3 linked regions of the Homo sapiens genome follow. Changing the gene in region 2 together with the main gene of any one other region gives a genetic interaction. Each region holds a gene or a part of one and is shown on either strand. Other genes may lie near its edges.

Region 1 (3,650 bases), on a different chromosome or scaffold from region 2:
ACTCTCCATTTCCCCCTTCTTCCAGTCCCTGGAGACCACCTTTCTGTTTCTACACACCATTTCTCTAAATTTGACTACTCTAGACACTTTATATAAGTGGAATCACACAGTATTTGTCCTTTTGTGACTGGCTTATTTCACTTAGCATAATGTCCTCCATATTTCACTCAGCATAATGTCCTCCAGGTTCATCCATATTATGACACGTGTGCAACCTCAAACACGTGGGCTCAAACGATCCTCCCACTTTGGCCTCTAGAGCAGCTGTCTAGCCAACTTATTTTTAGGAGCCACCATGTCTAGTTAATTTATTTTTTTATAGAGATGGGGTCTCACTGTGTTGCCCAAGCTGGTCTCAAACTCCTGGCCTCAAGTGATCCTCCCACCTCAGCTTCCCAAAGTGTTGGGATTACAGGCATGAGCCACTGTGCCTGGTCCCTCCTTGTTTTTTAAGGCTGAATAATATTCCATGGTAATATATACCACATTTTGTTAATCCTATCAACCATCAATGGACAACTGGGTTGCTTCTACCTCTTGGCTACTGTGAATACTGCTGCTATGAACATGGGTATACAAATATCTCTTTGAGACACTGCTTTCAATTCTTTTGGAAACACACCCAGAAGCAGAATTGTTGGGTCATATGGTAATTCTATTTTTAATTTTTTGATGAATGAGATTGACTTTTTTCACTCAGAATAATTCATCTGAGATTCACCCAAGTTGTTGTATCAGTGGTTCATTTCTTTTTATTGTTGGGTAGCATTTCGTTGTTATGTATGGACCACAGTTTGTTCAACCACTCACTAGGATATGTGGGTTGTTTCCAGTTGGGAAATAATTAAAGACAGAATTAAAACAGTATAACAAACAGTATATATGTAGAGGATAAATTAAAGAAAGGAAAACTATGAATGTAGGGGGAAGAATGTTGAGGAATCAATTCACAATGACCAACTACAAAATTCCAACATGAGAGAGAAAAATGGTGGGAACCATGATACTGAAGAAATAACACACAAAATCATCCCAAAATAAAGGATATAGGATTAAGTTAAGAAGGCCTTCATTCTCCACTCCAAAAACCATCAAGGTGAAATTATGGAACATCATTCTAAAGAAAGGATCTTTCCTCTAGAAAGAACACACAGCCCTATCCAAGCTGTGGAATGAAAATGGCATTAATACAAGAAACTTAACTGCAAAGGAGAAATACATATATGTAGGATTTTCAACCTATAATTCTATAGGTTATGGCAGCCTATTACAAATAAGACTGCCACAAACATTTGTGTATAGGTTTTGGTATGGACATAAGTTTTTATTTCTCTGGAATAAATGCTCAGGAGTCTGATTGCTGGGCTACATGGTAAGTGTATGTTTAAACTGATTGATCAATCAACTGATTGATTGAGACAGGGACTGACTCTGTCACCCACGCTGAAGTGCAATGGCACGATCATGGCTCACTGCAGCCTCCAACTTCCGCGCTCAAGTGATCCTCTTACCTCAACCTCCCAAGTAGCTGGGACCACAGGTGTGCACCACCACACCCAACTAATTTTTTATATATTTTGTAGAGACAGCATTTTGCCACATTGCCCAGGCTGGTCTTGAAATCCTGGACTCAAGTGATCTGCCTGCCTCAGCCTCCCAAAGTGCTGGGATTACAGGCGTGAGCCACTGTGCCCAGTCGTATGTTTAATTTTATAAGAAATTGTTATGCTGTTTTCCAGAGGGGCCGAACCATTTTACATTCCCATCAGCAATGCATGAGAAATCTAGTTTATCTGCATCGTTACTAGAATTACATATTATATTTTTTATTTTAGCCATTCTAATTGGTACATAGTAGTATCCCATTGTTGGTAGAAGAGCTGAGGCAGGACTGGCTTGTCTGTCATAATGTAAAAGAGTCTTGGAAGATGTCCGGGATCCAGGGTCTGAAACCCCTCGTGGCCTTTGGAACACCAAGCTCTGTGCCAAAGGGTGGAAGGCTACACTGCCGCACCACAAATCTAAGCCCAGGGCATAAAACCCCTTGTGGCTTTGATGGAATCCAGGGCTCAGGGCATAAACCCCTCGTAGCCTCTGGAATGTGCACAGACTTGTTGGTTCCTTGCTTCTTTCTTGTAAACATGCCCTCCATTATCTCAAGCAGCAGAGCATATTCTATATGGGTCAAAGGAAGTGCTAAACCGTCACAGCTACACTTAATGCACCACTACCTTTCTACTCTCACCTCCTCATGCCCTCACCTGTTTACCCTCATGTCCTCACCACCTGCTTCTTTGTTTGATCACCAATAAATAGGGCGGGTTCCCAGAGCTCGGGGCCTTTGCAGCCTCCAATCTAGCGCTGGCCCTCTGGACACACCTTATGAACTCTTAACTTGTCTTTTCTCATTCCTTTGACCCCGCCAGACTTTGTAGCCCTCAGGGCCTGGTGTTGGGCCCGATCACCTCAACATCCCATTGTGATTTTAATTTGCATTTCCCAAAAGGCTAATAATGTTGAACATCTTTTCATATGCTTACTTGCTACCTTTATAGGTTTTTCTTTTAGCCCATTTTCTTTTCTTTCTTCTTCTTTTTTGTTTTTTAAGTGACAAAGTCTTGCTCTGTTGCCAAGGCTAGAGTGCAGTGGTACAATCATAGCTCACTGCAGCCTTGAAGTCAAACTCTTGGGTTCAAGGAAGCCTCCTGCCTCTGTTTCCCTAGTAGCTGGGATTACAGGCATGCACCACCGCACAAGCTTTTTCCCCTATTTTCTAATTGTATTGTTTGCTTTCTTGAGTTTAGAGAGTTCTTTTTTTTTTTGCAACAGAGTGTCACTCTGTTGCCCAGGCTGGAGTGCAGTGCCGCGATCTCACTGCAACCTCTGCCTCCCAGATTCAAGTGATTCTCCTGCCTAAGCCTCTGGTGTAGCTTGAACTACAGGCACCCACCACCACACCGGCTAATTTTTGTATTTTTAGTAGAGACAGGGTTTCACCATGTTAGCCAGGCTGGCCTCAAACTCCTAGCCTCAAGTGATCCACCTGCCTCGGCCTCCCAAAGTTCTGGGATTACAGGCATGAGCCACCGCACCCAACCTCTTGAGTTCAGAGATTTCTTTACATAACCTGGATACAAGCCCTTCTTTGAATATGTGATTTGCAAATATTTTCTCCCAGTCTGTGGCTAAACTTTTCACCCTCTTTACAGGGTCTTTCACAGAGCTAAGTTTCAAACTTTTTTTTTTTTCTTGAGACAGAGTCTCACTCTGTCTCCCAGGCTGGCTTGCTGTGGCGCAATCTCGGCTCACTGCAACCTCCGCCTCCCAAGTTCAAGCGATTCTCCTGCCTCAGCCTCCTGAGTAGCTGGGATTACAGGTGCACATCACCACGCCCAGCTAATTTTTGTATTTCTAGTAGAGATGGGGTTTCACCATGTTGGTCAGGCTGGTATCGAACTCCTGACCTTGTGATCTGCCCGCCTCGGCCTCCCAAAATGCTGGGATTACAGGCGTGAGCCACCACGCCTGGCCAGTTTTGAACTTTTATGGAGTCCAATTATTGTTTTCTTTTATGAATTTTTTGGTGTCATGTCTAAGAACTGCTTACCTAGCCCTAGGTCCTGAAGATGTTATCCTATGTTTTCTTTTTT
Region 2 (3,650 bases):
TACCAGACTAGGTTACTGGATAAAAACGTGCCCAGGCACTCTGTTACCAGGTTATCTGCATACCTAGGACTCGTTCTCCGAGGCCCCCCAGCTCCAAATAGGCGTTCTGAAAGGCGTCTTTCAGCTCCTCATCCAGGGGCTGCTCCTTGCCGTGGAGGAGGATAGAGCTGCAACGGTCTAGGATCCTTTCTGGGGCGCCCTTCATCACCAACAGGTGTTGGGGCTCCGATGTGTTGGGGTTCTTATGAATAGACAACTGTGAAGGATTGTTGAGACATAAACATTGGATGGTTGGATGTGTGGCAGTCCATGGTGGAAAACAAAGCTTCACTTACTATTTAGTATTTGCTATAAAAGACCCAAGATCCCTTCTTTCTGAACTCTGAAGTATCTTACACCTGTAACATACTTTGAATGCTACAGAAAAAAAAAAAAATGAGCACTATGATATATTCATAAATTCCTGACATTTGTTCACATTAAAAAAGAACATACGAAATTTCAGAACACAGGGATTGGGGAACACTTGTGTACACATACCTCCAGCCACCTCCCCACATGCCCACACCCACCCCAAACCACAAGTATTCAAAAGGGCTCAACAGTGTTTTGCAAGAGGCTTCATTTATCCTGCTGATATTCAACTAAATTATGGCATTCTATGGTAATCAAGGGCAAAATTTAAAGCTAAAGCTTATAAAACTCCAAAGGGAGAATATTTCCTCTTCCTGCTCATGTACCTCCCCTCTTTGTCCCCCAGCTTGCCCTCGCCCTCCGTGTACCCATCGATCTTCAGACCTGGTACTTGTTGGTGGAGTTGAAGGGTATCTCGACGATTTTGGCGTATCTTTCTCTCATCTCCTTCACGGAACCACAGCACAGCTCTATGCACTTTAAGAGTGCTGACTCAGAGGCATCTCCTGCAACTGCCCGCTGTGAACAGAGACATCATCTGTAAATTATCTCCAAAAAATTTCACTGAGGCATCACTAAAAAACAGGAAAAATAACTCAAGACACATTCCAATCTTGTCAGAGGTAGCAGAGGATGGGCAAGAAGGAAGCAGCGGTGTTAAGTGGGACAGGAGTCCCTCTAGCCCCGACCACTGCTGTTCACAGTGCTTCAGACTCAAACCCCAACGTCCTTCCCCACCCCACAGCAGCTTCTAGTGAAAGAAGGGTGTGGGAAGGTGTCACCTTCCCTAGAAGAGGTATTAACACACCCTTCCAACCTACTGCAGTCTATTTCTATCTTCCCCTGGCCTACTGAAAAGTCTCAAAGCCAATGCTATTCCCAACTACCTACTTCTGGTTACTTATCTGAAAATACCAAGTGAGAGATTAAACATTTATAGCACCTTTCATTACCGTAGAATTCGTAAGAAAATGCTTAAGGTCTCAGGACTGGGGACAAGCTGCCTGTGTCAAGGGCAAAGTAGAAGACTGTGCATTCTAATCATAACTGTGCAAAATTAACTGGGCCTGAAGGATGTGAACTGAAAGCTATTACCAACTCCAACAGTAATAAAATCGAACCACGTAACATTTTAGTTAAAGCCCATGCTTCAGTGACACACATATTTTCTATGATACATGATGACACACTTATATTTTGACATACTGAAAGCATTTTCAGTTGTAAACAAATTTTATATAGGTAAACCTTTTAGAACCTTAACATGTAAGGCTGCATATGCAGATGAACAGATCAATGCTCAGAAGTATAGCAGCTCCACAGAGCAAGAAAGTTGGCTGGGTTTGGAAAGAAACACAAAATAAGTGGGGGACATTTTAAATAAAAGCCACTTATTTTAATAAAAGCCATTTTTAATAAAAGCAGAATAGGGCTGCTTCTCCCTCCCCGCTTTTTAGTAATAATGCCATCAACATGGCCGAACTCCAGAAATACTTGGAATACAGCTTCTGCTACCTTTCTGGGGTTTTTTAATCAGGAAAGATTTGATACTTGTGGGACCTGATGCTCAAAGCCTAGAACATTTCCACTTTGAGGTAAAGAAAAACATGAAACATTTATCTCAAGTTTTATCCTCAAGATACACAACATTATCCTCAAATCAACATCAATTCAATGCCAAGAAAATCTCCTTTGCAGAATAAATGAACCCTATCCTCATCACAGAAGGCATCTGAGTTACATCCAAGCCATATTCCCTTTGGCAACTTAGTTTATACCCACAACTACTACAGGCAGCTTCACAGAGAATGTGGGACCCAGAGAGCCTCACATAGCTTTCTTCTCCTACAGGACTTTGTACAATTCATGATCCTTCTGAGACTGCATCTTCACTTGGGCAGCATAGTAAAATCTCAATCATTTCAAACTGCATCAGAATTCCACAGGCTAAGGCTGGGCTTATTTTGGCCTGGAGCTTATTTTTACATCATTAGTAAACAAGCTAAGAACCAATAAGATAAGATAAGCTGAGCTATTTCAGGAAAATAAATGGCTTAAAGGAGTTACTGGAATCTACTGTATCCTAATATGCAAATACGATTATGGAGTCACTGCAGCCCTCAGCTCTCACTGTCCACTAGGTTAGGTGATAACATATAAACTCAAGAGTAGTAAAAGCAGATGAATTAGGTTTTTCACCAATAAAGACTGTCTTCCGTCTCCTCCCCTCCCACTTTGGTCAGATTTTTACTGCATCTTCCCTTTTTAATCAACCTATATGGAGCAGGGGGTCCTATAATACATCAGGATCTACAGGCAACACAATGTAAGTTACACACAGCAAAGTACTGCACAGACCACTCCAGGTGTTCTACAGTGAACAGTCACACAGACCACAAAGGTAATTTGCTACTTTTAACACTCAAATGGCAGTTCTCATGTGCTGTCTACATCCCTCCATTAGTTAACTCTTGAGCATACCTTAAGAATAGGTAGGTTTTCCTGGTTAGCCTGAAACACTGCCCTGTTACAAAGACCTGCAATTCTGGACAGAGCAAGCCAGGTAGCTGAAGTCTTGTCAAAAGAGACACCTGATGGAGGCAAGAAAACACAACAGAACAACAATGCATTAACTTCAAAGGCTGTGTTCTCAGTTCTCCTATTAAAGTCCCATAGAAATCTGCAGTGATACATCTCATTTCCCAATTAATGAAACCAATCACATTTTAGGCATTCTTCAGTCACGTTTGTAGGGCAATTTAAAGTTTCTACTGACATGCAAAAAATCAATATCCCATACCCTTGACTCTTCACTAAATGATAAAAAAAAAAAAAACAAAAAAGAAAGAAAAAGCTGCCATGAGCTTAAAAAAAAAAAAGAAATTTCATGCAATTTCTTAAAAGAAAAAAAACCAAGCGAAGTCAGCAGGTGGCTGAGGTGTGTGGTAACCCTGGCCTTACCACTCTGATTCTCTGTCGTATCAGCTTCATGGATTTGATTGTCAAACCACATGTGGGCCACTGTCATCCGGTTCTGAGTCAGAGTTCCAGTTTTATCAGAGCAGATGGTGGACGTGGACCCCAAGGTCTCCACAGCTTCTAAGTTCTTCACTAAGCAGTTTTTCCTTGCCATGCGTTTGGCAGTAAGTGTCAGACAGACCTAAAAAATATTAGGAAGATTATTACTTCACTCAACCAGGCTGGAATTCTATACAGATTCTTGCTATATCCTAATG
Region 3 (3,650 bases), on a different chromosome or scaffold from region 2:
GTGAGATCCTTAACAGGAGTGACAGCAAGCCTAATGTGAAACAGAATGAGGACTCTGGCAGCATCTCAAGGCCCCTGCCTCACTCAGGGATGGCATCTGGTCAGTGTCAGAAAACAACCCCATCCCCCAGCATTCCTCAAACACATGAGGTCAAATGAGGTGAAGAATCAGGACTTCAAGAAGATTCCCTACAGTGTGGACCAAGTATGACTCAGGCCGAGGTGCTCATCAGTAGAGCACGTAAATCCTCCAGAGGGGAGCCATGTTTTCCACAAGAAACAAGACACAAGACTGACTTGACCTAACAAGTCTCAATACACAAAAAAGGATTTAAATCATACAAAATATGTTCTCCAACCACAATGTGACTAAATTAGAAATCAACAAAAAGAAACCTGGGTAATCCCAGATATTTGGAAATTAAACGGCTTACTTCAAAATAGCCCATGGTTCAAAAAATAAAAATAAAACACCCACCTCATGGTACAGGTGGGAGGCTCAGAAGGGAAGACAAATATTTAAGTGAGCTGCATAATGAAACTCTGTAAGGCATTGGGTCTGGAATGTGCCTGCAGCTTGGGAAAGAGTAGAGGCGGCTCTGGAAGGGGCCCCTGCAGAGCTTAAAAACCTCAATGGAGGAATTCTAGAGCCCTGAGGTCCCACAAGTCAACGAGAGGAGGACAAAAAAAAATCAGTAGAAATGTGTGCTCTGGTACAGAGAAAAAAGAAATGACTAATTTCTGAGTGGTTACAGAAAAAAACAGAGCGACAATTAAAAATAATAAACAGTGGGTGGGTGAGTGCAGGGAGTGAGCCATCTTCTCTCAGCTCTTCCAGGCTTGGAGACCTCACTCCTGATCTGTTCCACATTAGCCTGGCCCATCGTCAGGGTGACAGAGACAACTTGCTGTGTGCAGCTCCCTTGCTGGGTGTAGCAGGTGAGATCTCACCTAAATTCTCACCCAAACCTGTGAGGGCTGATTTCCTGTTTATAGGAGAGTAAGGGCTCTGAGGGCTTACAGCACTTGCCAGGCTGTGGAGCTGAAACTTGAACCCAGGCGGTCTGGCTCTAAACAACTGCCAGCCATCCCACCACAATGTGCCGCCTGTGGCAAGGCACCCAAGCCAGGCACTCTCTCATTCCCTGGCCTCGCACAGACTGCTTCCTCTGCCTGGAACACTCTCCCTGCCCATTTCACCTGGCCAACTCTTTCAGCCCATGGCTCAGATGCTGCCACCTCCTGTAAAAGGCCTAGATGCTCTCACCTGTCATGCTGCGCAGCCCAGGCTCACACCCTCTATCTCAACCCCATCGCTCCACACTGCAGGAGCATGTCCATGCTCCACAGAGACAGGACTTCCCTGAGGAACAGCGCCTCAGCAACCCCAGACAAGGGCAGCACCTGGCAGGGTGGGAACTCCAGAGCTTGTGAAAACCACAGGGAATCAATCAGCAGGAGGACCTCAAAAGGCAAACAAGACAGAGACCCTGGAGCTCTGATGGGCAGAGGAGACATGGAGTGAAAGATAGGGAAGGAAGCTGTGTTGAGGCTACCTCTGAGGCTTCTGCACACCTGCAGGCAACACTAGCCCCCAGTCAAGCCCATCCTCAGCCCTGGCTCAGGAACAGGTGTGGGTGGGATGGGCCTGCTCCTTCTAGGCCTCACCTGTGCTGGAGATGCAGCTGCTTCCTCACTGTCTGATTCCTCCTCACTGCTCTCAGAGTCTTCCTGCTTTTCAGCTTTCACCTGGGTGACTGTAGGCCCCGTCTTCCCAGGGAGTACTGGAGCAGTCCCTTGCCCCAAGGACCCCTTGACAGGCACTGAGGCTGCTTTCACCTGGAGGCCTTTCCCCACAGACTTTGCCTGGGATGACAAGGGGAAGAGAGGTGTCTCCAGGAGTCCAAAGGACCACGTAGGGGCGGCCCTGAGGCCCGCCCAGAAAACACAGGCCTCACCTGTCCCACGGTTACTGCAAGACCTGTCTTCTCTTCCTCACTATCTGATTCCTCACTGCTTGAAGAATCCTCTGCTGGTCTCTGGGTGCCCCCAGCCACAGCTGGGGATGAGCCTGCTGGAGAAGTCGCAGTTCCTGCTTTCCGGGGGGCTTGGGTGCCCACTCGCACAGGGGCGACCTTGGCAGATGCAGTGGTATTGGTTTTCTTTGGGCAGGCCTTGGTCTGAGGAATTTTCAGAGCTGGTTTTGCCTGAGGGGACACCAAAGAAAGGCTGGAGAAGGTTCCTGAACTCAGAGTCCCCCATCTGTTCTGCCCCACCAGCCAAAACCCATGCTCTGCCTGAGGGAGCACAGCTCCCCGGGGGTGCTGACTGTGGTGTGGCAGATCAGGCCATGTAGCAGCCTCCTTCCCCAGGCCTCACCTGAGCTGCAGTCATGGCTGCTGGTGCCTCCTCACTGTCCGCACTGTCCGATGACTCCTCGCTGCTCTCCGAGTTGTCCATGGGCTTTTCAGCCTTGACCTGGACGGCTACAGGCCCTGCCTTCTGAGGGGGCCCCTTGGCAGGACTGGAGGTGGGTTTGGCCTGGAGGATGTTCCCCAAGGACTTTTCCTGGAGTGAGATACACAGGATCGGGAGAGGGAGCCCAGGGTAGGTGTGTGCAGACATTAAGAAACTAAGATTGTAGACAGAGTCCCAGTGTGAGGTTGGGAGGCCACAGGCAGCTCCACTCTGAGTGGGGGGGAAAAAGAAAGAGCCTTACAGGAAGGGGCCTCACCTGAGCCGGGGCCACAGCTGTGGGCACCTCTCCATCACTGCTGTCTGATGACTCCTCACTACTGCTCTCTGAGTCCTCCTCCCACTTCCCCACCTGGGCTGAGGGGGTTGCAGGCCCCACCTTCCCGGGTGGCACTGGGCCGGCGCCTTTCCCCAAGGGCCCCATGCCCATGGTAGAGGCAGGTTTCACCTGGGGGCTTTTCCCCAAGGGCTTCACCTGGGAGACACAAAGGACAAGATTAGGGAGGGAGTCCAGAAGGAGAATGTGAGTGAGGGGAGGAGAGCAAACGAAGCCAGCCGCACAGGGCTCTAGGTTCAGAGAGGAAAAGTCAAAACCACAGGAGGTCTTTTGAGGCAGGGCACAGGCCATGCAGGGCGGCTTCCAGCCTCACCTGAGCTGCATTCATGGCTGCCAGTGCCTCTCTGTCACTGTCTGACTCCTCGCTGCTGCTTCTTGAGTCCTCCTCCTGCTTCCCCACCTGGACCTGGGCGGCTGCAGGCCCTGTTTTCCTAGGAGGTGCTGGGGCAGCCCCTTTCCTGGGGGACTCCTTGGCAGGGGCCGAGGCGGCTCTGACCTGGGGGGCCTTCCCTGAAGGCTTCGCCTGGAGTGAGAAACAGGATGAGGGGAGAGCCCAGAGGGTGGACGTGTGGAGACAGGAGCTGGATGTGGCAAAGGTGGCCACACCCATGCAGGTGCTGGGGTTTAGGCATGGGGCTACTCTCCACCCCTCCCCTCTGCCTCACCTGAGCAGGCGCCTCCTCCTCACTGTCCGATTCCTCGCTGCTGCTCTGCGAGTCCTCCTCCCGCTTCCCCGCCTGGGCCTTGGCAACTGCAGGCCCTGTCTTCCCAGGGGGCGCTGGGGCAGCTCCTTTCCTGGGGGACTCCTTGGCAGGGGCTGAGGCAGCTCCGACCTGAGA

What was found.
Region 1: changes in ATP1A1 (region 2) and PDSS2 together harm fitness more than expected from each alone (negative genetic interaction), as found in Homo sapiens cells (one large-scale study listed by BioGRID).
Region 3: changes in ATP1A1 (region 2) and TCOF1 together harm fitness more than expected from each alone (negative genetic interaction), as found in Homo sapiens cells (one large-scale study listed by BioGRID).

The regions. Positions count from the first base shown.
Region 1 is NC_000006.12:107,449,434-107,453,083, forward strand, and holds part of PDSS2 (all trans-polyprenyl-diphosphate synthase PDSS2), read right to left. Parts: intron 1-3,650. UniProt on the Homo sapiens protein: Heterotetrameric enzyme that catalyzes the condensation of farnesyl diphosphate (FPP), which acts as a primer, and isopentenyl diphosphate (IPP) to produce prenyl diphosphates of varying chain lengths and participates in the determination of the side chain of ubiquinone.
Region 2 is NC_000001.11:116,390,137-116,393,786, reverse strand, and holds part of ATP1A1 (sodium/potassium-transporting ATPase subunit alpha-1), read right to left. Parts: intron 3,575-3,650; coding exon 3,376-3,574; intron 3,006-3,375; coding exon 2,896-3,005; intron 934-2,895; coding exon 799-933; exon of another isoform or gene 761-798; intron 257-760; coding exon 64-256; intron 1-63. UniProt on the Homo sapiens protein: This is the catalytic component of the active enzyme, which catalyzes the hydrolysis of ATP coupled with the exchange of sodium and potassium ions across the plasma membrane.
Region 3 is NC_000005.10:150,374,638-150,378,287, reverse strand, and holds part of TCOF1 (treacle protein), read right to left. Parts: coding exon 3,477-3,650; intron 3,335-3,476; coding exon 3,125-3,334; intron 2,950-3,124; coding exon 2,734-2,949; intron 2,568-2,733; coding exon 2,379-2,567; intron 2,207-2,378; coding exon 1,958-2,206; intron 1,866-1,957; coding exon 1,668-1,865; intron 1-1,667.